Homo sapiens: one gene and its partners. Changing the gene in region 3 together with the main gene of any one other region gives a genetic interaction. Each region holds a gene or a part of one and is shown on either strand. Other genes may lie near its edges. The genes, in order: GINS4, CNOT1, GFI1B, DCTN2, ATP6AP1, YTHDC1 and MTOR.

Evidence for each region.
Region 1: changes in GFI1B (region 3) and GINS4 together harm fitness more than expected from each alone (negative genetic interaction), as found in Homo sapiens cells (one large-scale study listed by BioGRID).
Region 2: changes in GFI1B (region 3) and CNOT1 together harm fitness less than expected from each alone (positive genetic interaction), as found in Homo sapiens cells (one large-scale study listed by BioGRID).
Region 4: changes in GFI1B (region 3) and DCTN2 together harm fitness more than expected from each alone (negative genetic interaction), as found in Homo sapiens cells (one large-scale study listed by BioGRID).
Region 5: changes in GFI1B (region 3) and ATP6AP1 together harm fitness more than expected from each alone (negative genetic interaction), as found in Homo sapiens cells (one large-scale study listed by BioGRID).
Region 6: changes in GFI1B (region 3) and YTHDC1 together harm fitness more than expected from each alone (negative genetic interaction), as found in Homo sapiens cells (one large-scale study listed by BioGRID).
Region 7: changes in GFI1B (region 3) and MTOR together harm fitness more than expected from each alone (negative genetic interaction), as found in Homo sapiens cells (one large-scale study listed by BioGRID).

What each region holds. Positions count from the first base shown.
Region 1 is NC_000008.11:41,535,303-41,539,651, reverse strand, and holds part of GINS4 (DNA replication complex GINS protein SLD5), read right to left. Parts: intron 3,293-4,349; coding exon 3,206-3,292; intron 2,582-3,205; exon of another isoform or gene 2,473-2,581; coding exon 2,359-2,472; exon of another isoform or gene 2,342-2,358; intron 1-2,341. UniProt on the Homo sapiens protein: Required for correct functioning of the GINS complex, a complex that plays an essential role in the initiation of DNA replication, and progression of DNA replication forks.
Region 2 is NC_000016.10:58,524,797-58,529,145, reverse strand, and holds part of CNOT1 (CCR4-NOT transcription complex subunit 1), read left to right. Parts: intron 1-497; coding exon 498-671; intron 672-1,040; exon of another isoform or gene 1,041-1,223; intron 1,224-3,007; coding exon 3,008-3,157; intron 3,158-3,786; coding exon 3,787-3,967; intron 3,968-4,349.
Region 3 is NC_000009.12:132,984,614-132,988,962, reverse strand, and holds part of GFI1B (zinc finger protein Gfi-1b), read right to left. Parts: intron 2,305-4,349; 5' UTR 2,285-2,304; coding exon 2,185-2,284; intron 1,682-2,184; coding exon 1,544-1,681; intron 767-1,543; coding exon 495-766; intron 1-494. UniProt on the Homo sapiens protein: Essential proto-oncogenic transcriptional regulator necessary for development and differentiation of erythroid and megakaryocytic lineages.
Region 4 is NC_000012.12:57,533,285-57,537,633, forward strand, and holds part of DCTN2 (dynactin subunit 2), read right to left. Parts: intron 2,562-4,349; coding exon 2,465-2,561; intron 2,262-2,464; coding exon 2,200-2,261; intron 1,871-2,199; coding exon 1,772-1,870; intron 1,169-1,771; coding exon 1,008-1,168; intron 814-1,007; coding exon 669-813; intron 20-668; coding exon 1-19. UniProt on the Homo sapiens protein: Part of the dynactin complex that activates the molecular motor dynein for ultra-processive transport along microtubules. In the dynactin soulder domain, binds the ACTR1A filament and acts as a molecular ruler to determine the length.
Region 5 is NC_000023.11:154,431,677-154,434,529, reverse strand, and holds part of ATP6AP1 (V-type proton ATPase subunit S1 precursor), read right to left. Parts: intron 2,701-2,853; coding exon 2,626-2,700; intron 2,265-2,625; coding exon 2,071-2,264; intron 1,600-2,070; coding exon 1,559-1,599; intron 896-1,558; coding exon 810-895; intron 323-809; coding exon 84-322; intron 1-83. UniProt on the Homo sapiens protein: Accessory subunit of the proton-transporting vacuolar (V)-ATPase protein pump, which is required for luminal acidification of secretory vesicles.
Region 6 is NC_000004.12:68,315,267-68,319,615, forward strand, and holds part of YTHDC1 (YTH domain-containing protein 1), read right to left. Parts: intron 3,597-4,349; coding exon 3,560-3,596; intron 3,488-3,559; coding exon of another isoform or gene 3,464-3,487; coding exon 3,424-3,463; intron 3,316-3,423; coding exon 3,253-3,315; intron 1,183-3,252; coding exon 1,048-1,182; intron 1-1,047. UniProt on the Homo sapiens protein: Regulator of alternative splicing that specifically recognizes and binds N6-methyladenosine (m6A)-containing RNAs.
Region 7 is NC_000001.11:11,252,277-11,256,625, forward strand, and holds part of MTOR (serine/threonine-protein kinase mTOR), read right to left. Parts: intron 3,917-4,349; coding exon 3,716-3,916; intron 1,698-3,715; coding exon 1,563-1,697; intron 1-1,562. UniProt on the Homo sapiens protein: Serine/threonine protein kinase which is a central regulator of cellular metabolism, growth and survival in response to hormones, growth factors, nutrients, energy and stress signals.

The DNA of each region.
Region 1 (4,349 bases), on a different chromosome or scaffold from region 3:
GAAAACATTGGCAAAAGTCAAAGAGAAGGATGTGGTTAACATAAAGAGGGTTTACACAACCCTCCCGAGGAAGGACATGTGGCCTGGAGGTGGGATAGGGTGGGTGGAGAGACACACCATAAGACACAGGACAACGTCTCTGAGACACCCTTGCAGGCAAGCTATGGACCTGGGGCTAGGGGACGGCTTGGATTGGGAGACTCCTAAGTGGCTGAAAAAAGAATGCTGACTCAATGGGTAGATGTCAAACTGTAGGGAAGTCTTTTGTGAAAGACCCTTGCCACAGTCCAATTAATAATCACATAAGGTTTTTTTTTTTTTTTTTTTTTTTTGAGATGGAGTCTCATTGTGTTGTCCAGGCTGGAATGCAGTGGTGTGATCTCAGCTCACTGCAACCTCCAACTCTCGGGTTCAAGTGATTCTCCGGCCTCAGCCTCCCAAGTAGCTGGGATTACAGGCACCCACCACCACACCCAGATGATTTTTGTATTTTTAGTAGAGATAGGATTTCACCATGTTGTCCAGGCTGGTCTCAAACTCCTGACCTCAGGTGATCCACCTGCCTTGGCCTCCCAAAGTGCTGGGATTATAGGCGTGAGCCTGTAACTGGTCATCACCAGCTTTGGTAAGCATGCCATCAAAAACCTTATGTGGGCCAGGCACAGTAGCTCATGCCTGTAATCCCCGCACTTTGGGAGGCCAAGGTGGGTGTGGATCACCTGAGGTCAGGAGTTCGAGATCAGCCTGGCCAACATGGTGAAACCCTGTCTCTTCTAAAAATCAGCTGGGCCTGGTGGCAGGGGCATGTAATCCCAGCTACTTGGAAGGCTGAGGCAACAGAATCACGTCAACCTGGGGGGCGAAGGTTGCAGTGAGCTGAGATCGCGCCACTGCACTCCAGCCTGAGCAACAGAGTGAGACTCTGTCAAAAAAAACAAAAAAACACAACCAAACAAATAAAAAAAGGGGGTTGATGACATAAAGTATTAAGAGACAGCTAATACATTAGGTGACAAGATCAGCATCCAGAGACAAGGGAAATGGCCCAATTTAATAAGATAAAGCTTAAGAGAGATAAGTATCAAGCCCTACACTTAAGGAGCCAAAACCTAAGCCATACAAGTAGAGGACAGTGACTGGATGGGGTAATTATCATCTTAAAAGGGGTTAGTGTCCACGTGAGTGAAGAATGAGCTCAGGCAGCGTACCTGTCAATATGCTAATGTGATAAATATGCTAATGTGATGTGGTTGGCATTACTACCAGCTTAATAACCAGAATAAGAGAAATGATCATTCTGTTTTTCACAAACTTGGTCAAACTACAACTGGGATACTGTGTTTAGTTTAAGATAGTGTAACTTAAGAAGGATAGAGACAAACAAGAACCCTTTTAGAGAAGAGACCAGGAGAGTAAATGGTTTGAATGGCTAAAATGTATGCCTGAGAGAAGACTTCGAGGAGACTGTGGGCAGTCTTCAGATAGCTGAAGCATTCTCATGTAGAAGAGATAATTTATCTTATTTGTAATAACTAAAGAGACACATAGAACCAAATGAAATGTCAAGGAAGTAAGAATTTCTCAGAGTTATAAACTAGGAATGTTTTGCAATTTCTTTTTTTTTTTTTTTTGAGGCGGAGTCTCGCTCTGTTGCCCAGGCTGGAGTGCAGTGGTACAATCTTGGCTCACTGAAACCTCCACCTCCTGGGTTCAAGCAATTCTCCTGTCTCAGCCTCCTGAGTAGCTGGGACTACAGGCGCCTGCCGCCACGCCTGGCTAATTTTTTTATTTTTAGTAGAAATGGGGTTTCACCTTGTTGGTCAGGCTGGTCTCAAACTCCTGACCTCAGGTGATCCACCCGCCTAGCCTCCCAAAGTGCTGGGATTACAGGTGTGAGCCACCACGCCTGGCCTGCAACTTCATTTTTGTAAGTTAGATAGCCACAAAGCTGTAGGTGAATGTAAGTCATCCTGGTTCATTTGACACTGACGTTGGCCATCTGACAGACAAAATAATTTTGGAAACAAGTTCTCCTCTAGTCAGCATTCACTATTGACCAATGCCAACAACTCTCCCTTTAGCACTGCCATGCTGTAACGCAAGGGGGAACCACTCACTCGGCAGGTGAACAGACTAAAAATGTGTGCGGTGTCCCCGCAGTGGGCCACACACGTTCCTCTGTGCTTCTGTGGAGCAATCTCTCGCTCTCCTTACAGTTTAGCTACATGGATATTGGGCTCTTAGCAGCATCTTCAGGTCCTGGACCCTCCTGGGCCCCAGCCCAAGTTTTCCCCAGGACATTCAGTCTGCATTACAGACTGTGCTGTCTCAATCCCTCCAGGTATCTCCACGTCAAACCTTCATGAGGCGACACCGCAAGTAGCTGCTGAGGACGTAGCGGATCCTCTCCATCTCCATTTGGTGGATGCTGACCTTCAGGTCCTCCCTTTTGGCTCTCCTGAGATTTTCTTCCTATTAAATGAGAAATTAAGGTTTATAAAAAACATGATGTTCAACCATCATCACCGGCAACGTTGAGGACCCAGACTATGTTTCAGTCCAAGGAAAACAAAAATATCATGTGAGTTTTCATTTTATCATTGTATAAAGTACAAACAATAGTCATTTACTTTTAGAAAATGACCATTTGAATAGAATCTGTTCAGCCAGAGGCTTCCAAAAGAACTCCAATCTGATTGTAAGGGAGATAGTACAGCACACAGACGAAACTTCCATTGGGTCTAAAAAGCAGTATTAAAACACCAGCTGAGAAACTGAAATATCCACATTTTACAGCTTCTCTGAAGTTGACAATGATTTATGCTCAGATCATCTAGGCCAGGGACCACAAACTCAAATGTTTGCAGGGGCCAGGTGGGGAGGCTACAAGAGAAGGGTGGGTAGTCAGGGGCTGTGGGGAGCAGGGAGTACATGGATGGACAGCTCTCATGGGACTGCTCTGGTCAACTGTTCTCATGCAGAAATGCAGGATTTTAGACTTTTCATGGGAAGCCAATATCCAGATATTTACAGGCACTCTCAAGATTGATAAACATAGATAACTAATTCAATGTTGTTTTAAAGAACTGGACTGTGAGTGGAGCCAAACAAAACAGATTTGCTACCAGACCACAAGCTCTCAGTGTGCTGACCAAATGCTTTTACCTTTCTCCTCCTTTGTCAACCCAAGACAAGCGACTCTTACCATGTGCTCCAGCTGTTCCATGACACATTCTACAATCTCAGGCTTGCTCTCCAGCAGCTCAGGGGCAAACTTTTCATTCATCCAGGCCTAAAAGACAAATGCCAGAAAAAGCAAGCATCACCCACCACAGAGCTAAACAACCCAGTGAGTCAGCCCAAGTCCAACGAAAACCAGGGATGGCGCAGGCAAGAAAACTGTCTGCCCACCAACTGGAAACATTGAAGGTGTTTTGAAGACAAACTACGTTTAGCGATTGCTTTCTCGTGTCTTGTTTTAGTTGGGAGGCTGTGTTCACAACCTTCTATTCAACTGACACTCATACAAACCCTTGCTTACTTCAGTTAGTGTGACGCTTGGTGCTGAGAGTGACACCACCTGGTGTTCAAATAGTGCCTTTGCCAGGCAGCCCGGGCACACTGTTCCCCCAGGCAGCGCCACCCCATGTCTATTTAGAGAGAAAGCAATAACCCACCAATCCACACAGCTCTTCATTCCTGAAGCTCAGAGCACTTCACAAATATTTTTCATTCATCATCATCATATCTCAGAGAAAATGGATATAGTTATCCTCATCTGATTGAAAAAATACAGATTGAGTAATTTACTAATGGCCCCAAAGTATACAGGATCATAATAGAAACAGGCGCTCATCTATTATGGAGTTTTGGAGCCAGAGGTTAAAGCTCTAATTTATGACTCAGGCCCAGCTGTTTGGTTCATTTTAGAGACTTCCAAGGCTTAGAGAACTGAAATATCCCTAAGTGACTGAGGAAAGCTACACTTATCTTTCAATTACAGGAAATGTAGTTTTAGCATAGCTCAGAATTATATGCTGACCAGGCTCAACTTATTTTTTTCTGACGTCCTTGAGTGTCTGCTTCTCCCCATGATCACCGTCAAGACACATTACCAAATGCTGGGTATGGCTACAGTCATAGGCATTTGTGCAGAGCCTGAGCATCTGTAACAGTCCTGCAGACTGAAACAAACAAACAAAAAAAACCTGCATAATGCATGGGAAAACATCATATTTTCTGGAGGGCTTATTAGGAGCAGCATTTCTTTTTGATTGATTTTTATTAAATATTGAATAATTTTTATTTATTTTTGAGGCACAGTCTCACTCTGTTGCCCAGGCTGGAAA
Region 2 (4,349 bases), on a different chromosome or scaffold from region 3:
TTTTTATGACTGTAGGATCTGTAATGTCATTCCTGACATTAATAATTTTTGTGTTTTCTCTGTCAGCCTTGGTTAGGGTTTATCAATTTATTTTTTCTAATAACTAACTTGGGCCCTGATTTTCTCCCTTTTCAGTACTTTAAAAAATTTATTATATGCTTTTACTCTACTTTCTTTGGTTTTCATTAGTTCTTTTTTTTTTTTAGCTTCTGAAGATAGACGCTTACATCATTGTATTTTTATTTTTTGTCCAGTCTCCTCTTCTAGCATATTCATTTCAGCCTGTAAACTCTTGATGCCTAGTTTTTCATGATACCTAAATGGAAATATTTGATAAATCATCTGTGATAATGTTAATTAAAGCCTAAAACTTTTTAAGAAATGTTACTAAAGTATACTTCATTCTTTTGAGGGGGGTGGGGGGCTTAAGTTACAATAGGAAAATGTTACTCCATTTTCCTTAGTGTGGAAATATTTTTCTTGTTTTTTAAAAATAGGGCACTTTAAGAGTGCTGCTGGTTCTTTTGCATGATTTCCCAGAGTTCCTTTGTGATTACCATTATGGGTTCTGTGATGTGATCCCACCTAATTGTATCCAGTTAAGAAATTTGATCCTGAGTGCCTTTCCAAGAAACATGAGGCTCCCCGACCCATTCACTCCTAATCTAAAGGTAAGGTTCCAACTAGTTAAAGGAAAACTTATGTCTTAATATTTCAGTCCTTTCTCTGATAAGTAGACTGTTCAGCACTTTCCTACCCAACATAACACGCACACTATTAGTTAAGGGTACTCTTTAAAGGAAATAATGTTATTAAGCCTGATAGAAGGTATGATATTGTTGCTATTGCTGTTGCTGGTGAATATTGGTTCACAGCATTTTTCTAGTTGCTAGTTTTCATATTAATTTTGATATTAAATTTAGCTCTATTTACAGAACCACAGCTTAGGTGTTGGGGCAGTCATTTGCTGGGTGTGCCCCACATGGCAAAGAATTGCAGAACAAACAGACCTTTGTAATCTTTTTCTTTTTTTGAGGCAGAGTCTTACTCTGTGACCCAGGCTGGAGTGCAGTGGTGCAGTCTCGGCTTACTGCAACCTCCCCTTCGCTGGTTCAAGCTATTCTCCCGCCTCAGCCTCCCAAGTAGCTGGGATTACAGGCACTCGCCACCACACCTGGCTAATTATGTGTTTAGTGGAGATGGGGTTTCGCCATGTCAGCCAGGTTGGTTTTGAGCTCCTCACCTCAAGTAATCTGCCTGCTTCGGCCTCCCAAAGTGCTGGGATTACAGGTGTGAGCCACCACGCCCTGCCATAGTCTCCATATTTCACAGTTTTGTGTCTGTGCACTTGTGCAGTTGTTCCTTGGTCCCTTGCTATTCTTGGAGGATTGGTTCTAGGACCCACTGGGACACCAAATTTTAAGTATGCTTAAGTCCTGTATGTAAAGTGGCATATAACCTTTGCATATCCCCTTAAATGACATCTGTAGTGCTTATGATACCTAATGTAGTGTAATGCTATTATGGAAATAACTATTTTAAACTATATTAATAACTTTTTAAAATTTGTGTTTTTTATTGTTGTATTATTATTTATTTGTATTTATTTATTTATTTTTGAGACAGAGTCTCACTCTGTCACCCAGGCTGGAGTGCAGTGGCGCAATCTCAGCTCACTGCAACTTCCGCCTCCTGGGGTCCAGTGATTCTCCTGCCTCAGCCTCCCAAGTAGCTGGTACTACAGGTGCCCGCCACCATGCCTGGCTAATTTTTTTTTTTGTATTTTTAGTAGTGACGGGGTTTCACTAGTTGGCCAGGCTGGTCTCAAACTCCTGACCTCACGATCTGCCTGCCTTGGCCTCCCAAAATGCTGGGATTACAGGCATGAGCCACTGCACCCGGCCTTTATTGTTGTATTATTTTTTATTGACCCCATCATCTACCTCTACCTTCACCCCCCATATTTTCGATTTGAGGTTAATTAGATATGGAACCTAAGGGTATGGAGAACCCACTGTATTTTTTTGTAAGTTGTTGGAATAAAGGAGAGAGAGGACCACTTAAAATCTCACCACCCTGACATGGCTACTATAGTTTGTTTAAGAGACAGGGGTCTCGTTGTTTTGCCCAGGCTGAAGGGCAGTGACTATTCACAGGTGTGAACATAGTGCACTTCAGCCTCAGGCTCCTGTGCTCAAGCCGTCCTCCTGCCTCAGCCTCCAGAGTAGCTGTGACTAGAGGTGCACACCACTAGAAGTGCCCAGCTATAGTTTAGATGTAGTCTCTACTCTTTCTGACACATGCATTTTTTTTTTTTTTTTTTTTTTTGAGACGGAGTTTCGTTCTTGTTGCCCAGGCTGGAGCGCAATGGCGCGAGCTGTGGCTCACTGCAACCTCTGCCTCCTGGGTTCAGGCGATTCTCCTGCCTCAGACTCCCGAGCAGCTGGGATTACAGGCACCACACCCAGCTAATTTTATATTTTTAGTAGAGATGGGGTTTCTCCATGTTGGTCAGGGTGGTCTTGAACTCCCAACCTCAGGTGATCCGCCTACCTCGGCCTCCCAAAGTGCTGGGTTTACAGGCGTGAGCCACTGCGCCCGGCTTCAATTTTTTTTTTTTTTTTTTTTTTTTTTAAGGAGTAAGTGTGATGTCTGGTCTTGCTGGGGCTTCTTTTCAAAGACTCTTGGTGAGTGAGGAATCTTATTCCGGATTATTATTTTGAAACCGAAGTCCAAGAAAAATCAGTTAGTTGTGCAAATTAGACCTTTGCCCAAAAGGTATCTTGCCTCTGGGAAGGAAATACATTATAGAGTGGGAAATTTTTATCATTTTGAACCAAGATTCTTCTAAAGAAAGAAAGACTGATTAATAAAATGTGGCAGCTGTGCTCTTCAAGGCATTTATAGTGTATATAGTTTTAGAAAAACAGTCCCACCACTTAAGCATAGATGTAATTTACTAATAAAAATGATTCTGCTTGTGATTCTTGCATTTTATCTGTGGCAGGTGGACATGTTGAGTGAAATTAACATTGCTCCCCGGATTCTCACCAATTTCACTGGAGTAATGCCACCTCAGTTCAAAAAGGATTTGGATTCCTATCTTAAAACTCGATCACCAGTCACTTTCCTGTCTGATCTGCGCAGCAACCTACAGGTTAATTGGTTTGGCTTAAAACTCATCTACGTCTTCCATATAAAGCACTTTCTATGTATGGTCCTGTGTGTGGTCCATTTGGGAGTTAGTCTTTTATTGTCATTTCCATCAATTGGGTGAGGTTGATTAACTGGATTTACGTATTTTACTAGTTCATTTAATCAGTGATATTTTGCTACAGCTTTGGACAAGACAGCACTAGAAGAGTAGACCACAGACAGTCATTAGCTGTTGGTACTCCTAGGATTTTTCTGAATACCTGGATGCTGATTTACATTTCTCTATAGGATATTTTGGAAAGTTATATATTTACAGTCTGTATATGCCATGCAACTACAACTTTCTCTCCAAATCTTTAATTGGCACAGTGCATATTTTGATTTTATAAACTTTACTTTAGAGCTGTGCCTTGAGCTTCGGCTTCCTGAGGGAAATCACATTTCTCTTATTGATACAACCACCTTTGGAGCATCTGTGTGTTTGTTAAATAACCTCACAAATTCAAGCAAGTGAATCACAATAAATGTTTGGCCTTTCCATGAAGGTGTAAGAAGGGTTTAGAAATACTGGTGCTAGAATTGGTCCTCTGCAGGAGTAAGCATAAGGAGTTCTGTTTTGCTCATTTTAAGGTATCCAATGAACCTGGGAATCGCTACAACCTCCAGCTCATCAATGCACTGGTGCTCTATGTCGGGACTCAGGCCATTGCGCACATCCACAACAAGGGCAGCACACCTTCAATGAGCACCATCACTCACTCAGCACACATGGATATCTTCCAGAATTTGGCTGTGGACTTGGACACTGAGGGTGAGTGAAGCCTGCCAGTTTTCAGAGTAGAGTTCTCTGTGCTTTTTGCTACAATCTGATCACAAAAATGTAAAAATGCTTCAAGCCACAATAGTGAAGGAATGTTCTGTCAGTATATTTATTCACAGGTCTAGCTGATTATTTTATCTTTAATTGGACATTATCTGCTCAGTGCAGGAAATACAAAAAAGCATAAAGGAAAGAATTATCCAGAATCGTGCAGTATCAGTTTTGGTGTATGTGACTGAAGTTTTTTAGTGTGAAAATAAACTTAAAGTCCCTTTAAACATAGCCTCTTGTTACATTGTTTTGTTAGGCTGCCTTATATAAGCATTTTTATTGGTGCGTGTTTGGCAGGCATCTTGTTAAATGTTCATGTATA
Region 3 (4,349 bases):
TGGGTACACAGAGTAAGGGGCACTGGATTGCCAGTTCTGCTGCTTGCTTGCTGTGTGTCCCAGGGAGGTCCGTTTGCCTCTCTGTGGCTCAGTCTCCCTTCTACAAAGTTGGATGTGAGAGAGGGGATCTGGAGGCCCCTCCTTGCCTCATCTAGAGGCTGAATAGCCCAGTGGTTAAGAGCTGGGAGTTGGCCGAAGCTGGGTTTGAATGCTGGTTCTGATATCTACTTGCTGTCTGATCCTGGAAAAGTGACTTAACCTCTCTGAACCTTAACCTTTCATCTGACTCTGGCACTCATGCCTGTCAATTGCTTAGCACAGGGCCAGGCACGTGGTCAGAGCTCAATGAATGGTGATGAGGATGAACGTTTTGAATCCTTAATCCCACCAGAGCCCCAACATTCACAGCACAGAGAACGCCCAGAGCTGCCAGTGAGTTGAGAGGGAGTGCGGAGAGGAGGGCCCAGGTGCCCACCACACCCCCCGCTGCCCACCTTGTTGCACTTCACACAGTGGTACGCATCCATGCCTGGGGAGTAGCGGAGGCTGAAGTCCAAGGCGGGCTCAGTGCTGGGCACAAGAGGACTGCCGTACAGGCTGACGGAGTGCTCCAGGAAGGCTGACTGCATGGTGGAGGGGGCCTGCCGGTAGCTGTGGCCATAGGTTGTGGCCAAGGTGTCCCAGGAGAAGCTAGGCTTGTAGAATGGGGGTGAGTCGGACAGTGGAGAGTCCCCATCCTGGGGTCGGGACAGCACAATGGGGCCCTCTGTGGAGATAACGACACAGGCCTGGTTACTCATTTAAACACAGGGGGTTGGGCACAGTGGCGTGGCTCATGCCTGCAATTCCAGCACTTTGGGAGGCTGAGGCAAGTGGGTCACTTGAGGTCGGGAGTTCAAGACCAGGCGGACCAACGTGGTGAAACTCTGTCTCTACCAAAAAATACAAAAATTAGCCAGGCGTGGTGGCTCACGCCTATAATCCCAGCTACTAGGGAGGCTGAGGCAGGAGAATTGCTTGAACCTGGGAGGCAGAGGTTGCAGTGAGTTGAGATCGTGCCACTGCACTCCAGCCTGGGCAACAGAGTGAGACACTGTCTCAAAAAATAAAATGAAATAAAATAAACACAGGGCACCCCCTTCCCACCACCCTCTACCACACACCACTACCTTCATCACCTCATGTGGAGGGTTTCAGGGTGTCAACCCAGATACTTACTGCCAGGAATGTCTGGGTCCTCACTGTGGCTCCTCAGCTTTTCCAGCCCAGAGACACCCCCAGCCTCACTCCACAGTGCCCACCTCACTCCCTGCACGGACCGGCCCAGCTGCTGCTTCTGGCCTCTTCTCCCACCTAGCCCACATCCGGGAATTAGCTCCCTGTCTGAGAGGCCCAAGCAGAAGCCACAGAGCCCGGGCTGCATCCAGTGACTTCGTGGGTCCTTCCTGACTCCAGGGCCCCAAGGGGCCCTGCTGCAAGAGTCCCTTCATCCTTCCTCCCCTTGGCACTCCCTGGGGAATGACAGTGGGTCACAGCGGGGTACCTGGTGCCGGGGCCATCCTGGCCAAGTTCTGGTCCTGCTCCAGCTCCGGCTCTCGTTTGAGGTTGGTCCAGTCCAGGCACTGGTTTGGGAATAGAGTGCTAAGGACAGGGCTGTTGCTTGGAGCCTGGTCTCTGGGCACTGTGGGGAGATAGGACCATCAGCATCAATAGCCACGGTTTCTGGGAAGCCCAGAGGGAGCAAGGAGGGCACGCCCTTCCTAGGAGGAGGAGGCCCAGAGAGACAGCCACGTGCCGCTGCTTCTGGCGGCTCACACTCCCGGGCTCTGCCCAGAGCAGGCGGCGGCAAGAAGAGGCCAGGAGGAGACCCCGGGGAAGACTTTGGACCAGTCTGTTTTTCTGAGCAACCCAACTCCAGCCCTAGACTGGGCCTCCAGTGAGGCCCCACATGCCAGTAACTAAGTACTGGCTCCAACCTGACACTCTCGTCTCCCTAACAGGGCAGAAGGGATGAGGGCATCACTCATTTGTCTACTCCTTTCATCTGCAACCCACAGTTACTGCACTCCTGTTTCCAGACTTGGAAGAAGAGGCTGCTGCAGGAGGGACGCTGCTGCACCCTCATCACGCAGAGCAGAGAGCCCCCCGTGGGTGCAGCAGGCGCCAGCCCGGGCTCTGACTCACCCGGGGTAAGGGCAGGAGGCCAGAGCGGTTCATCTTCCTGCACACGGGGCTGGTGGTAGGTGTGAGCCTTCTTGCTCTTCACCAGGAAGGAGCGTGGCATTTTCAGTGTGCACCCCACACCTGCAAGGGGGAGGGATGGGAGCGGTTAGGAAGGACAAGAGAACAATACCCCTCCATATCTCAGAACCTCCTCCTGAGATAAAACACCAGCTATACTGGGTTGAACAGTGGCCCCCAAAGTTCATGTCCACCCAGAACCTGTGAATGTGACCTTATTAGCAATAGGGTGTTTTTGCAGATGTAATCAAGTTATGATGAGGTCATTCCGGGTTAGGATGGGCCCTCAATCCAAGATGACTCGTGTCCTTATAAGAAGATGGAAATTTGGACCCAGAGACACAGACACCCAGGGAGAACGCCGTGTGCCGACAACAGAGCAGAGAGTGACACTTCTATCAGCCAGAGAATGCCAGGCAGTGCCGACAGCCGCCAGAACTCGGAGCTTCTATCAGCCAGAGAATGCCAGGCAGTGCCGACAGCCGCCAGAACTCAGAGAGGGGCATGAAACCCTCTCCCCTGGCGTCTGCAGAAAGAACCCACTTTGCGGACACCTCGATTTTGGATTTCTAGATCCCAGAACCATGAAAGAATAAATTTCTGTTGGTTTTAAGCCACCTGTTTGTGCTATTTTGTTACGGCAGCTACAAATCCTAACTTCCCTCACTGCTCCTTCACCAGGAAATGAATGCATCGCCCCCTAGAAAACGCTCAGACAAGCCTGCTCCCATTGGCATGACCTGGGCTGCAATGGAGCAGAAAAGGAAAGGCAGGGACTGGGGTCTCCCTCTGTGACACACAGTGGACCCCAATTCTAGAAAGCTACATTTGGGTACCAGTGAGATTCACCTTCAGAGGCCATAGAAACGGGTGGTCTGAGCTTAGGTTTTGGAATCAGTGGTTCGTGGGTTAGAATCTCAGTTCACTTGCTGTGCAATTTGGGACACACACTTAACCTCTCTGGGCCTATCCCCTTTGCTGTAAGTGGGGATGTCCAGGCTTGCAGTGCTGACAGGTGCATCACAGGTGTTCAGTGTCTATCACTGGGGGCTCTGGCAGAGAAGCTGCAGCAAACGAGGGGACATTGCCAATCCACGTGCTCCTGCAAGCCGCAAGCCACAGCCGCCAGAGCACGGCTGCGCCTTGTCCACAGCCCTGGCCCAGAGTCTGTTCCCTAGAGAGACAGGGGCTTTCTCTCTCTGAGGAGTGGGGTGTGGGGACTCAAGACCTGAGAGGACCCCCAACTCCACTGCACCTGGAGGCCTGAGGCTTCATGGACACAGGAGAAGAGGCGAACAGCCCCCAGCTTCCGTGGGCAGCCCAGCATCACTACCAACCCCACCAGTCAGGGAGTGGGAGAAGAAACCAAGGACCACATCAGTCAAGGGACCATCCCAGGCAGAGTCAGGGAGTGACAGGGCTGGACCAACTTGACCACCCCAGGACTCCTGGCTTCCCCTGCAGAGCCCTCTGGAGCTGAGAGCCCTGCCTGGCCCCCAGAATGGTTCACATCCCTGCACTCAGCCTGTGAGGTTCCCCCGGGCACTCTGGAGAGCATCTTCTGGTGGTCCTCTATCCTTTCTGCCCCCACGCTGCACCCAGGCCGACACCAGGCCCATGCCTGAGGCGTCAGAGGAGTCCCACCCCCCCACCCCTTGGGCCAGCCGCCATGCAAGGCTGCAGGGGTGATAGGGTCCGGAGAAGGCGGGAGAGGGATCACAGCTGCTTCAGAACAGCAGTGAGGGCCTGGGTGATAAGGCCTTGGCCCAGGAGCAGGGTGGGAGGTGGGAGATTAGAGAATGCAGCTTGGAAAAGGGCCAGGGACTCACCCCTTCCCCAAGGAGATGAACCACAGCCAGGCAGAAGAGGGACCCGACTATGCCCAGGCCTGCTTCCCCCTGGCCCAGAGCCTGGGGGCATCAAGAGTTTGGACTGGGGGCTCTGCACAGGGGGCCAAGCTCAGGCCCAGCCCTTGCCTGCTGTAAGGCTCATCACTGAGCCTCAGTGCTCATATCTGCTAAACGGGGATCCCAATCCAACCACATGGGATGGTGGGGAGCGAGAAAGGACCTTTATCCATCAGGAGCGAGTGTGAGAGGTGCTCAGCA
Region 4 (4,349 bases), on a different chromosome or scaffold from region 3:
GCTTTTCAAGTTCTGCGACCTAGTGGGAGGAAGGAGGTGAGATTTGCCATCTGCTTCCCTGCTGCTGCAATGGGAGGAATACGATCCTGCTCTACTCTGCCTGCCACTCACCACCCCAAGGGATTCCTTTCCCTGGAATACATACCTAGCCACAATCTTAAAATCCTAACCAAAGGTAGATGGGCGAGGGAAACATAGAGAATGAGGTCGGGCGCGGTGGCTCACGCCTGTAATCCCAGTGCTTTGGGAGGCCGAGGCGGGCGGATCACGAGGTCAGGAGATCGAGACCATTCTGGCTAACATGGTGAAACCCCATCTCTACCAAAAATACAAAAAATGAGCCGGGCGTGGTGGCAGGTGCCTGTAGTCCCAGCTACTCAGGAGGCTGAGGCAGGAGAATGGCGTGAACCCGGGAGGCGGAGCTTGCAGTGAGCCAAGATTGCGCCACTGCACTCCAGCCTGGGAAACAGTGCAAGACTCCGTCTCAAAAAAAAAAAAAAAAGAAAGAAACATAGAGAACAACGAATCAGGAATCAAAAGAGGAATCAATCAAGAGGAATCAGAGGAATCAGAAGCCTTCCCAGCACCCTCTCCTTGGAGAGAGGCAGGAAAATCTCTAGGGTCACATCTCCCCTTGGCTTCCCAACCAACACTGTATCCACACTTACTTTGGCAGCTTGAGAGAACTTGTCCTGCTCAGGCCGAGAATGTAGTTCATAAGTGACAAGGCTGCTATCTGGGGGGGTCCCAGTGGTTTTTCCCCCTGATCCCCCTTTGCTGTTCTTTGTTGCTTCCAGCTGCAGTAGTAGGCGCCTAGTTAGGAGACCGAGTAATAATATCATGACTGGAAGGAGAAGGGCCAGTCACTCTCCCTCACTTTTGCCTCATAATCAGCATTAAGAAACATCTAAGCCACTTCTCTGCCACTTAGCACCCCTGTCAGTAGCTGGCTGAGTCCATCCACAACCCCAGTCAGCAATGATTTTTCAACAAAGTAGGGTACCCACTTAGCCAGGGCGCCATCGGGGTCGGTAAGGTTGATTGCAGCATCTGGTCCCAGCAGCTTCTCCAGGTGGGAAGCAACCAGCTGCTGCTTCAGGGCTGCCAGCTGTTTAGCCAGCAACACAGGGGTCAGCTTCTCCTCTGTGGCTGACTCCTTCACTGTCGTCTAGTATGAAAAAAGGTAGAAATCGGGGGATGGCAAGAATGAATCAAGAAGCAAAAAAATAGGTCAAGCCCTTTAAAGGTAGTTGTAGCTGGAGGTCACTGGGATGGTTTTCAGCATGACAGACTGCCCACCTGTATGTAGCACTGCATACAGATGGATGCATATTTGTAAACTCTGGAAACCTTAGCCCCTTTATCCAGGAGCTTAAGGAATCTTTCTTTCTTTCATTTTTTGAGATGGAGTCTCGCTCTGTCACCCAGGTTGGAGTGCAGTGGCATGATCTGGGCTCACTGCAACCTCCGCCTCCGAGTTCAAGCAATTCTCCTGCCTTAGCCTCCCGAGTAGCTGGGATTACAGGTATGCGCCACCACACCTGGCTAAGTTTTTGTATTTTTTTAGTACAGATGGGGTTTCATCATGTTGGCCTGGCTGGTCTTGAACTCCTGACCTCAGGTGATCCGCCTGCCTCGGCCTCCCAAAGTGGTAGGATTATAGGCGTGAGCCACCGCACCCAGCCAGGCAGGGAATCTTTCTCTTCTTGCTTGAGGTCTTCCTCTACTGTGTAAGTCACAGCAGAGAAGGGAGAAGAGAGTTTGTAGTTACCTTGATTTTTTCAACTTCAGTTGTCAGCTCTTGGACCTCATGCAGTAGGCGCTGGTACTTTTGCTGGGGTGTCTCCTTCACTCCCAGACCCTCTCCAAGCTAGAGAGCAGGCACAGAGGGTAATGTTATATGTCTCATTACAGGGAGCCTCAAGAATTCATCCACACCCTGGGCCTAAGTCATAAAGGTATCATATCCAATTGAGAATCCACAACACCCTAGTACCAAAGAACTGAGGACAGCTAGAGGGCTGGAGGCTCTCCAGAACAAACAGCAGTAGGGCAGAGTTTCCCTGGCTGCATCCTGCTGCTTCCTCAGGAACAGAGGAGGAACAGAATCCCGCCTGTATCCCTTGATCTCCCTACTACATGTCTGCTAGATAGGGTCACTACACCATTCCCATCAACACACACACACACACAACAAACCATCTCATATTCTCCAGATTCATATCCTGTCCTCTTGGTTTTTCCAATACGATCTGAGAAATCTGCCAAGAAAAGAAGATGGAACTGAGGGCCTGATCTAGGCCCAAGGCAGTCATGGTCTCAGGTGACTGTGAGGGCTTCCATAAAATATCTCCATGAGGGACCCCTTCCCCCAAGCACAACTCACTAAGACTTTAGGACAGGAAACCACTTCTCATGCTTATCCTCCAGTCTTCCCCCCACCCAGCTTCCAGCCCAGTCTCACCAAGTCCCTTTGTCCCCACTCTCTTGTCCTTGAACTTGTCATAGGCAGCATTAGGATTGACAATGATGTGTTCCACACTTGTGCTTGTCAGCTCCTCCTGCAAGAACAGGTAGTTTAGGCCAGGGACACACTCATTCCCACTCTAGAACTTACTCTACCCCACAAAATCCCCAAACCATTAGGTGACTGGGCCCTACTTGTCCAAGGGGAAAGAAGGGTGGCTCTATTCCAAGGCGCCTACCCAGGCTTAACCTAGGAAACTGAAGCTTCCTGGTAAATTTGGAGCCTCAGTTGTATAAATATTAACACCCTCATTCAACTGGGAGCAGAGGGAGCATAACCTCCCCACCCTCTCTGTACATAAGCCTTCCCATCCCCCCATGCTACCCCTCCCAGTTGTCTGGCACACGCCATGCACTCAAGGCAAGAAACCAACCTGACCTCTTTTAACCTCCCCCTCCCAAAAGTAAATCTTGCCCGCTGAGCAAGTCCATTTTAATGCTAACCTCCCATCCTTGCTAGAAGGAAAGAGGAGGGAAGGCAGATAATCAGGCCACTAACACTGAGTGTGAATATTAGGACTTTAAACCTGTTGAAGGTAAGACACAAGCTCTTAGTACAAAAAGAAGGCCGACAGAGGGCCTGACCAGAAGCCTGATTTCCAGGCTGCCATGAGGCCAGCGAACTCAGGGACAGGGAGAAGGGGCAAGGGCTTACTGGATTATCTTTATGGGACATCTTAGAAGCAACAAACATAGGCAATATCTGCTTGCCAAGAGTATCCATGGGCAAGAGCCACATGTAAGCTCTGAAATGGAGATAAACCAGCATCTCTTCAGAGACGCTGCAGCACCTGATTTTTCTCCCTGACTCCTCTGCTATGCTTTAAGCACTGAAGCTCTTCCAAAAACAGGGGACACAAGTAGGCGGTGAAAGAGACTTCACCCTAGAAACTGAAGCAGAGAGGTTCCCTCCTTACTAGATATCTACATGCTGTTCAGATTCCAGTGACAACACCAAGACTGCACCAAGCACTCCTGACTGCATGTCCCTTTTTCAATTGTCAGAAGCCTGACAGCTCCCAACAGAGTACTGATGGAAGTAGGAGGGAGACCCAGGAGTCCTTTTCTGTTGGGGATGACATCTCTACCTTCTATGGGAGGAAGGCAAAATGAGCCTTCCTTCTTTCACCTAGAACAATGGTTCTCACCCCAGGCTGCATGTTAGAATCACTTATAATTTTTTTTTTTTTTTAAATAGACAGCCGGGCAATGGTGGCTCAAGCCTGTCTGTAGTCCCAGCACTTTGGGAGGATCCTAATTCCAAGTGATCCACCCGCCTCGGCCTCCCAAAGTTCGGCCAAGGCGGGTGGATCTCAGGAGTTCAAGACCAGCCTGGGCAACATAGGGAAACCCCAACTCTACAAAAAATATAAAATAGCTGGGTATTGTGGCACGTGCCTGTGGTCCCAGCTACTCAGGAGGCTGAGGTGGAAGGGTCACTTGAGCCTGGCAGGTGGAGGATGCAGTGAGCAGAGATCATGCCACTGCACTCCAGCCTGGGCAACAGAGTGAGACCCTGTCTCAAAAAAAGAAAAAGAGAGAGAGAGAAAAGAAAAAAAAAAAAAAAAAAAGGCCTGGGCCCACTTCTAGAGATTCTAATGAATTATTCTGGGGTAGGGCCAGATATCCAGGTGATTCTAACCTACAGCCAGGACTGAGAATCTCTGCCTGTGTGTAGGTATGTGGGGAGAGGGTGTGAGGGGGACATGGTGGGACATCATTGAGAAAGAAAAGCAGATAGAAGGAAGCTCCTTCCTTCATCTCTGCTCTGCTATTAGAGCAGGAATCAGTGTGGGTGACAGCTTTAAAAATAAGGGAAGAAG
Region 5 (2,853 bases), on a different chromosome or scaffold from region 3:
CTGGCTCCCTGCCCCACCTGCGACCCACAGTGATGGGAAGGTCACCTGTGGTGGCACAGTCCTCCCCAGCCTAGTGCCCTTGCCTGGCAAAGGAGTCATTCCAGAAGGAGCCAGTCAGGTTGAGTTCCTGCACCCCAAAGGTGAGGGGAGTCAGGTCCTCCCACTGGTCCTTGTACGCCACAGAGAAGTTTTGGGCCCAGAACAGGATCCGGGGAGCGGTGTCATTGTAACTCACAGGAGGATGGATCACAGGTGATACTGGCTGTTTTTGTAGCAGCTGGCGACCTAGCCCTCCGGCCACCACGGCTACATCACGGGCCACCTGCAGAAACACCCAACCAGCCTTCTTTCAGCAGCCCTGGGAGAGTGTCACACTTGAACCCAATTGTCGTGCCCTCCTTCCCCTCCCAACAGGACACCCTGTCCACTATCTCAAAGTCCCATCAGCCAGAGGAGACCTTTCCTCCAGGAAGCCTTCCCTGATGCCCCCTAAACCCTGATGACATTCCTAGTCCCTCAAACTTAGGGTCATTTAGACTTAGTGTCCAAGTCTGCCACCCACAAGCCTCACAGGACGAGATGGAAAGCTGCCCCTGGAATGGGGAGGCAGGACTTGAGTGCTCATCCTAGCCCTGCCCCCAGAGTCAGCCACTCCAAATAGTCACACCACAGGGGTTCTGTGCCTCATGCTTCCCCTATGCTGGGCCTCCTGGGCAGCCTACCTGTGGCATACACTCCCCACCTCCAAGCAGACTCACCACACTGCCTCTCCCTGCACGCCCCAGAGCCCCTGCTGGAAGGGCACATACCCTGGAAGGGCGGACCGCTGTGAGGGCCGCTGTGTATGGGACATCTTCGGACTTGAGTGTGCTCAGGACCTGCCCGATGACCTCATCTGAGGGTCAACAAGGAGAGCAGAGACTCAGGTCACCAGGCACCCTGCATAAAGAAACACTCCCCACTGTCTGCTTTAGAAACCTTCTAGACCATCTGAAAGTGGTGTGTTTACTTTCCACTGAGGATCCTTAGGAGCAGCTACTTCTCATCCCACCCCCATTCCCAGCCTCCCCCAGAGACAACTGTGGCTTCAGTCATCGATTCCCTAATGCCAAGCCCTACCTATGTGACATAAGAAAATACATATCAATACAGAAAACTCCACATCCACCCATGAAAGGTTCACGACTGCCTTTCCATGGGGAGTGACTGTCCTTTATTGCAAATAGATGAGTCCCCAGAATTGTTTTTCCAAATGTCTGCAGTCTTATTAAACCCATAACTCTAGGATTCACGCTGCCTGCACAGAAACTGGCTCCACAGCCTCCAGCACAGAGAGCCGCCCCCCTCTGCCAAGTGGGGTCTGGCTGGACAGGGTCTTCTGTCAGGTGGTCCCTGGCTGGTCCTGGGAGCCAGCATTTCCCTGCTCCACTGCCAGCTGCCCCGAGAAGCAGGCGGGCCACCCTGGGAGTGAGGAGGCCGAGGAACTGCAGGCCAGCTCTCTCTGTGGCCCCCACCCAAGGGCTAGATGAGGACGTGCATCCTCCCTGATTCTACTCACCGTTGCCTGTGAGGACTTCCCTGGGTGCCATCAGACCAGAGCTATGGAAGACAAACAGAGCGCCAGAGTCCTCAGGCGGCCTGGACCTGCACTGCCCACTACCCTTCCCCGACCCCAGCTTCTCCTCCCCACTAGCCCCACGCACCAAGCCTGCACACTCTTACCTCAGTGCCCCCTCCTGGAAGCCCATCCCACCCCGAGGCTTCTCAGTCACACTCAAGTCCTGGCCACCTGCTCTGTGACAAGGGCCTGGCTAGGTGAGAAGGCTCCCCACCCGCAGGGCTCACATCTGCCTCATCTCTGGAGGCCCAGCTCAGTGCTAGGCACCAACTCCTGAGTCACAGAAGAGGCCCTCCCCTCCTCTTCTGGCCACACAGGGCACCTTCTGGAAGGGCTGTGAGGGGGTGGGGAGTACTGGCATCTTTAGCCAAACGGTGCCACCACATGCCATAGCCCAGGGCCTTGCTGCTCTCTGGGCCCCGAGGCTGGTGGCTGGGCCATGCGGGCAGTACCTGGCTGTGTAGGGCAGGCGAATGAGCAGCAGAGCAGGGAGGCTGGCATTGAGCTTCAGCTCCCGCAGGGTGGCCAGGTCCACATGCAAGGGGCTGGCCCCGAGCTTCTCCTGCAGGTAAGTGGTCAGAGTGCTGACTGCATACCAGTCGACGGCAGGAAGCACCAGTGAGGAGGGGGCCAGGTCCAGGGCATTCTGGGGACAGGGGAGAGGCAAAAGGTGAGTTAGCCAGGGGCCAGTGGGCCTGGCCCAGCCCCCCACACCTCTCTGGCAGCTCTCCTCTGGCAAGCCATACCCATAAAGGCTCACCAAGAAAATGGCCCACACCCCAGCCCCTGACATTCAGGCCCCAGGCCTTTCTACCCCAAAGCCAGCGTCTCTGCTCCCTAAGAGTATGAGGTGGCTTTTGTTGTTGTTGTTGTTTTTGGGGGGGATGGTTGACCCAGAAGAGACTCAGACCCAAGTAACCCTGATATGAGGTCAGAGTACAGTTCTTATGCTGGGAGAAGGAGCACAGAATGTCCCCCATGGCCCCTGGCTGGGAGAGGACTCTCACCTCTAGGTTAGAAAAGGCGCTGTCCTGCTTGTTTCCAAACACACCGCCATATGCTGTGAAATCCTCAATGCTCAGCTATTAGGGAAATAGGGGAGACATCTGAGGAGGTTTGGCAAGTGATGGGGGCCAAGGCAGGGGACAGCCACCTTCCCCGTGCATTCTCAGGGCCAGCAAAGTCTCACTGAGAGTCAGGTTCAGTATGGTGGAGCACAACTGTGTGTTGGTGGG
Region 6 (4,349 bases), on a different chromosome or scaffold from region 3:
ATTATTTTACAGAATGTTAGAAGTCATGATAAGATTTGATTTAGAGAAAATTACTATCTTTATAAGGAAATTACTGACAACACAAAAAAATGTCTCAAAGATAGGCTAGAAAGCTGCTCTGATTCTCACAAATAGGCCCACTCTTCATCTTAAGTGGGAAAATAAAAAGATGTTTATTTGGCCCCATACAGACTCATCAACCTAAGTAGGGAGTGGAAAAAAATTCTAACTTGCATATCCTACTTAGTTTAACAACAAAACTACCTTTCTAAGGCTATCAAACTTATATGCATATGAATTATGCTTCCAACACTTGCCAGAAGACAATTCTGCTTTATAAATAAAAGTACTATTGGGGGGGGTGGGGAAGCATTTAATAAACTCAGCCCCACTAGTTAAAAACCCAGAAAACTCAAACTAAAACTAGAGTCTTTTTTTCACTGGTCCTGTTTTGAAGCCATCAAAAAAAGCTTTCACATCAATCTTATCAAATAATTAACAGAATCAATGAATAAAGGACATGTCTGCTACATATCATAACATCTGGTTATTCTTTGCTAACATCACAATAACCAGAGGTAAAACAATTTATCAGTTACTAGCTTTAACATTTGGTAGAAATAAAAACAAATGACTAAATGAGATTACAGCTTATCAGCTAACTTAATATACACGATCTATCCTAGAAAAATTGAGTAAGAATACACAAAAAGTTCAGAAATATCTATTAACAATATTAATTACATAGCATAATTAAGATCTCAATATGGAAAGAACATAGCCTAGGTACTACCTAAAAGGAGTTCTATTTGTAGGCGTTTGCCTTAAGCAGTTTGTGATTTGATCAGTAAAAGAAATATATTCTATCTATATAATCCAAAGGGGCATAATCAGGCATTTTTAATAAAAACAAACAATTATTCCAAAACAGTCTGCAGTAAGAATATGCAATGGTCCGTCAATCATCATACTCTGGTCTCCCCATATTTAAGTTACCTACAGAATTCTAAGTAGTTCCCTCACACCTTTGCCTCCTTGTGCACTTACTACTCGTTTATCTCTGTATCTTGCTTCATGTGGTACTGGATGATGTCCTGAGTAAGGGGGATGAGCTTGAGGAGGTGGAGCATGGTGCTGATAGTAAGGATGGTGTGGAGGTTGTTCCATTCCTGGGTAAGGGGGCTAAAAAAGGAAAACCATTTACATTAAGAATCTACCAACACCCTTGTAAACAAGCGATTCTTAGAACCCTTCATCCAAAACACCAATCCCAAACAAGTGAATCTGTACTAGACATTTACTTTGATGGCATTAAGGTGTTTCAAAATATGCTTTTTGTCGAAAATTACACATCTTCTAAGATTTAACATGTTTATGCTTTTCTACTCCTATCATATAAATAACAATGGAAATAGCAAACACTTACATGGTGCTTACTGTGAGCCAGGCATTGTTCTAAGCACTTTACTAGTCTCATTTAATTCTCACAGCAACCTTATGAGATAGATACTATTGTTCCCAGTTTACAAAAGGGAAAACTGAAGCAACAAGGAGTTAAGTAACCTGCTTATAGTCACACTACTGTTAAAGTGGTGAAGCAGGCATACGGCATCAGGCATCCTAGTTCTGCAGTTGGTAAACTGGTTAACCACTTTGTATGTATCTGTTCTTAGAAACATCAACAGGCCTGGTGTGGTGGCTCACGCCCATATCCCAGTGCTTTGGGAGGCTGAGGGAAAAGAATCCCTTAAGCCAGGAGTTGGAGACCAGCTTGGGTAACAGAGTGAGACCTTGTCTCTATAAAAAAATTAGCCAGGCACAGTGGCATGTGCCTGTAGTCCCACCTACTCAGGAAGCTGAGGCAGCAGGACCACTTGTGCCCAGGAGTTCAAGGCTGCACAGAGCTATCATCACACCACTGCATTCCAGCCTGGGAGACCGAATGAGACCCTGTCTCTCAAAAAAAAAGTCCAGGAGCAAATTAACTTTTAAATGCCATTTAAAAAATGAATAAAGGGTAAATTAAAGATTACTTTCATAGTTACTATCAAGATCATATATTATTAAATTTTTAAAATTTCCTAGAATCTAAAGGGGAAAAGTCTCATAATCATCTGCATATAATAGTATAAAACTGTATACCTTAAAAGTGAAACAAAAGTCAGATGAAGAGGCCATATAACATATTGCATTTAAAAAAAGACATAAATTAAAATGTAAGAAAACAGTAGAAGCTACTTCAACTTCCAGGTTTTTATTTCTTGAAAATTAATGCTTCAGCTATCTTCAATATCTTAAAATATACTCTAAGACAATTCAGTTTTCTTAAAGGAAATAATTAAAAAGCAGGAATAATCAGGGTTTAATTAATCTTATTTTACACAGAAAATTTAGTGAGTATTAGATCAGGCACTATGCTAAACTTAACATGTACTTTGTAAATTTATCTTGACAATGAAAATGACACTACTACATTAAATTTTAAGCTATACCAGGACAGTCATGATGTCAATTTCATTCACCATGATATAATCAGAACAAGCACAGTGCCTTGCACAGAGTAAGTACTAAATATTATATTTGATAAGACAAAGCATCAGTGAATGCCCATGGAATTTTACAGATGAGGAAAACTAAGAGTTGTATTAAGAAATTAACCCAAAGTCACAGAGTTGGGAAGAAAAAGAAATATATCTGAACCCAAGCGGACTTTGCACTACTAATTACTACCATAATACACTATTACAGTTCTCAAGCCTGTACTATTAACACAAATGAGCTTTTAGTCTTTAGTTTGAAAGACAGCATACAATTATTTATCATCAAAAATCTGTATTTTAAGTCTTTTTGAGATGGAGTCTCCCTCTGTTGCCCAGGCTGGAGTGCAGTGGCGCAATCTCGGCTCACTGTAACCTCTGCCTCCTGGGTTGAAGCAATTCTCCTGCCTCAGCCTCCCCGAGTAGCTGGGAGTACAGGCACACGCCACCACACCCAGCTAATGTTTTTTGTATTTTTAGTAGAGACAAGGTTTCAGTTTCACCGTGTTGGCCAGGCTGGTCTCGAACTCTTCACCTCAGGTGATCTAGCCGCCTCAGCCTCCCAAAGTGCTGGGACTGCAGGTGTGAGCCACGGCGCCTGGCCAGTTTAAGTCTCTTTAATGAGTAACTGTAACAATCATATTCCGAGTAAGCACCTGAAATACTAGAACTGCAAATTAAGTTATGTAACTTATAAAAATAGAATAATACAAACCATTCCTTGCCAAGGTGGTGGTGGTCCCATGTTATGAAATTCCCTCACATAATCATTGTAGGACTAAAATAAAAGATGATAATGTCAATATAATTAAAAATTATCACAGAACTGCAAAATAAATCAGAGCCTGATTTTATCCACATTAAATAGATAAAATGAAATGCTTACCCCATTTAAAAACACATCTCGGCGAACTCCTGAAAATCGTCTGTTGGGAATAAGATTTGTGAAACTAAATTCAGGTAATTCATAAACTAGTTCCAAGAATGTAATTCAAAACTAGGCAAGAGTGAACCCGACTTACCTGTCCACTTCCTGGTATCGTGGATCCTTTAAATACCCTGTTCAAACATCAAGCATTTTAGTAAATCAAATTTATATTTTTCTTTTATGGCATTATAATTAAACCTTCCTTACCACTCGTTTCAATTCTTTCCATGAAATATGTACTTTAAGTGATGCTACTACTGTATTATCCCATTTTCAAATTTTCTTCTCAGATTACATGATAATCTAGGAAATAACTAATGATATCATAGAATTGTAAACTGCTAGAGAAGCTTTCAGATAGGTATCTTCTATGTTCACACTCCAAATCTTGCTAATCAGAAAATTTCTTCCTTCTGCTTCACAGGGAAGGTAAGGGCAGAGGAACTATCTTGAGCACACTATGACAGGACTTCCTTAAAACAAATGTTTACTTTCCACCTTGGGTATATGTAGGTCTTACCAAGAAAACCACAGATAAGCTTTTTAAAATGTAAACTTAAGGGGGAGGGGGAAAAAATTGCAAAAGTTGCAAAAATGAAGATGTATACACTGAAAATGAAAAATCGATGGTGGTTAGAAAAATATTCTTTCCCCTGCTTCTTTTAATAAGAACCCAACAAATTAAAATGTAAAAACATTTGAGTAGTCATGTTACTGGGGAAAAACTATTTTCACTTTCTACAACAGGACAACCTATTTTGGAAGAATGAGGCTAATCAAGCCACTTGTTACATAATAGTGCTATAATGATCACTAACATCAATCTCCTAACTGCCTAAGTTTCACAAGTGTATCACTGACTCTCTTCAAATACATGATATCCC
Region 7 (4,349 bases), on a different chromosome or scaffold from region 3:
ATTTTTTTTTTCTTTTTAAAAAGTTAAAAAAATTTTTTTGTAGAGACACGGTCTCACCGTCTTTTGCCCAGGCTGGTCACGAACTCCTGGGATCAAGTGATCTTCCCACTTCAGCCTCCCAAAGTGCTGAAATTGCAGGTGTGGGCCACTGCACCCAGCCCTGGGTATTTGTGAACCATGACTAGTTGAATCCAGATGTAGAACTCATGGATATAGAGAGCCAACATCATATAGAAACCGCACAAGAGCCCAATGAGGTAGGTAAGAGCCCCTGTCCAAAGGGAGAAAAATGAGGCTAAACAGGTAACTTGCCTGAGTCGCACAGTCATCAGAGCGGTGGGGATCTGAAGCCAGACTCCTCCTGCTTCTGCACACTGCTGCATGCGCTGCTCCCACATCTGGGCATGGCTATTATCTAACAAGCACTGTGTCTATTATAAGCAGGAATCCCCGGGGTAAAATTTCACAGCTCATTTTCTACAGCCAGTCTCACAGATGGAGCTTTACCTCCCAAATATATCCTGAATCAACTACTTCTCAGTATCTGTGCCACCACTCCTAGTCAAAGCCACCACTGTCACTCACCCAGACTACCGTAATAGCTTCGTCTGGCAGCCGTGAGAATGCAACCTCCAACTACAAGGCGCATAACCAAGGGCCCCAGCTGCTGCTCTGAAACCCATCACTAAGTTTGTGCCAACGTCACCCATTGCTCCCAGCCAATGACAGAACACAGTAGGGATGCTAAGGCTATCCTGCTCTTGGGAGACACAGACCTCTCTGACAGCCAACTTTGGCTTGAGGACCCCGCGGTGGCCCTGCAGAGTAGGCTAGAACACTTCTATCCGAATTTTACCCTCTTGCTTACTCAGGGTCAGATGTGCATTGTGGTCCGATGCTTCTCCCAGCTTCCTCCCCATATTCTCTTGAAGGCTGTTTCCCTAATAAAATCCATGCACTTTTAAATCCACCTTCTCAAGCCAACACATCTCCTAATTGGTCTCCCTGCTTTCATTCCTGCCTTTCCCCACATTTTTTCCTATAAGCAGTCAGTGATTGTTAGAAACGCATGACATCACATTATTCGCCTGTGTGCATACTTCCAATGTTTACCCCTGTGAAAGCTCGTGTTTACTGTGAACCGTGGGCCTATTAATTTGGCCCCTCCTTCCCTCTCCCTTGCTCCCGGTACACCAGCCATACTTCCCTTTCTTCTGTTTCATCAATGTCTCACACTCTTCCACCTCAAAGCCTCAGCCTGGAACACAGTCCCCCGGCCTGCTGCAAGGTAGCTCCTTCGTGTCATGTGGACCCCCGTCAAATAACACCACCTCAGGGAGGGCCTTCCTTGACCCTCCACTCACCCCCTCCCCATCACTCTCTATTCTATTCTGGTTTGACTTTCTTCATAGAACTTGCTGCTATCTGAAATTATCTTATTTACTTATTTATTATGTTTCCTGCCACAAAATGTCAGCTCCATGAGGACATGGATCTCGCCTTGCCTCGCTCACAGAATGGTACACGGGGAGCCTGGACTCCCCTCTGCCGTGGCTTCTCACCTCTCCCTCCATGCTGCTGATTCGGACCAGCTCGTTAAGGATCAACAAGGCTCCATGGATCCGATCATCCCGATTCATGCCCTTCTCTTTGGCCAAGGTCTCATCAAATCCCTTCTCTGCTTCTTCAAATGTGTGCTATGTAGAGAGACAGGGTGCCTTCATTAGAGACAGAGTACAAACCCAGAAAGAATACAGGCCCATCCCATCTACACTGGGGGTTCTGAGGTGCTACCACGCCTGCTCAGTGCCTAGTGCCAGTCATCAACAAAACTAACTGATCAATCTCTTTTATTTAATTCAGCTTCAATTTTTTTTTTTTGAGATGGAGTCTTGCTCTATTGCCCAGGCTGGAGTGCAGTGGCGCAATCTCGGCTCTCCACAACCTCCACCTCCTGGGTTCAAGTGATTCTCCTGCCTCAGCCCCCTGAGTAGCTGAGATTACAGGCACACACTACCACGCCTGGCTAATTTTTGTATTTTTAGTAGAGACAGGGCTTCACCATGTTAACCAGGCTGGTCTCAAACTCCTGACCTCAAGTGATCCACCCATCTCAGCCTCCCAAAGTGCTGTGATTACAGGTGTAAGCCACCACGCCCAGCCCCAGCTTCAATTCTCATAATAAGCCTTTGAGGAAGATACCATCATCATCCCTATTTAACAGCTAAAAACACAGGCTCAAAGAATTTAAGTGACTTGTCCAAGATCACACAGCAAAGGCAAGACTGGAACCCGCATCTCCCAATCCCATGTTCAGAGCTCTTTTTCTAATATAAGACTCACTGATAAGTTCCCTCTGCAGCAGTAATCAGCACAGGCCTCATTATACTAGAGCAGAGAGAAATGGCACTTTCTAAATTAGTATCATTTGTATCTCACTGATTTTGAGACACCTATTTTTCCGTATTTTAACATCTCTGAAAAGAGATGTCTTTTTTTTTTTTTTGAGACAGAGTCTCACTCTGTTGTCAAGTCTGGAGTGCAGTGGCATGATCATGACTCACTGCAGCCTTGATCTCTTGGGCTCAAGCAATTCTCCCGCCTCAGCCTCCCAAATAGCTGGGACCACAGGCGTGTAACACCAGGCCCAGCTAATTTTTTTATTTTTTGTAGAGACGGGATCCCACATGCTGCCCAGGCTGGTCTCAAACTCCTGAGCTCAAGCAATCCTCCTGCCTTGGCCTCCCAAAATGTTGGGATTACAGGCGTGAGCATCCAGCTGAGATGTCTTATAATTAATTATTAATAAGAAGAAGGTACAAAGTTGGCCGGGCACAGTGGCTCATGCCTGTAATCCCAGCACTTTGGGAGGTCAAGGCAGGTGGATCATGAGGTCAAGAGATCAAGACCATCCTGGCCAATATGGTGAAACCCTGTCTCTACTAAAAACACAAAAATTGGCTGGGCGTGATGGCACATGCCTGTAGTCCCAGCTACTCGGGAGGCTGAGGCAGGAGAATCACTTGAACCCAGGAGGCAGAGGCTACAGTGAGACAAAATCACACCACTAAACTCCAGCTTGGTGACAGAACAAGACTCCATCTCCAAAAAAAAAAAAAAAAAAAAAAAAAAAGAAAGAGGTACCAAGTCACAGTTTAATTGGCATATTTGCATTCTTAGTCATACATAAAATAATGTATAGAATAATGGTATGGCTATCAATAGATGTTTGCTTTAATAAAATGCAATAAAGTAACTATTGATTCATACTGAGCATAAAAAATTCATTGGAGGCCAGGCGCGGTAGCTCATGTCTGTAATCCCAGCACTTTGAGAGGCCAAGGCAGGTGGATCACCTGAGGTCAGGAATTCGAGACCAGCCTGGCCAACATGGCAAAACCCTGTCTCTATTACAAAAATTAGCTGGGCGTGGTGGCACACGCCTGTAGTCCTAGCTATTCGGGAGGCTAAGGTGGGAGAAAATCGCTTGAACCCAAGAGGCGGAGGTTGCAGTGAGCCGAGATTGCGCCACTGCACTCCAGCCTGGGCGACAAAGCAAGACTCCATCACAAAAAAAAAAAAAAAAAAATTCATTTGAGAGCAAACCAAAACGTGATTCTTGCTCCATGGCAAGGGCTTGTGGCTGCCCTTTAGGCCAGGTGATTCTCTACGCAGATGTGCTTTGCTAGTGGTGGGAATGGAGCCATCTCCTTACCCTGTACCACTGAGGCTTCTGCATCTCCTTCGGCTCACGCTGGGTTGTGAGAATCAGACAGGCACGAAGGGCGGCTACAGCTCCCTCACGGATGGCCTGTTTGGGGTCCCACACGGCCACAAAAATGTTGTCAAAGAAGGGTTGCACTTGCTGGAAGAAGAAGGTAGGGACGCTGATGGCCAGCTCACGGAGAACCAGGACCTGGAGAAAAAAGCAAACCGAGAACTCTCATTGGTACCAGAGTTTTGTTCTCTCAGGAGTACAGTCTCTTGTCATCTTAGAGCCATACACACCAGGAACAGAGAAGGCTTGCTCACTCTTCTAGCTAGGAAATTCTGAGGACAGAGGAAGGAAAGCAAAATTGATTAAACATCTCAGTGCTCATTATCCTAGGTTGTTTACAAACACAGAATGCTTGTAATGTTTGAACATAAGTTCTGGAAGTGCAGATGTGTTTTATGTTTTCTTTACCACTATACTAACAGCCTAGAACTCTACCTGGAATACAGTAGGTATGTAGTAAATATTTACTGAATGGATAATCCTGTTTAATGTTTAATCCTGTTGTTATTTTTATTTGACAGAGGAAGAAACTGAAGGTCAGAAGCTGCCCCAGGTTACAGAGTTAGGTAGG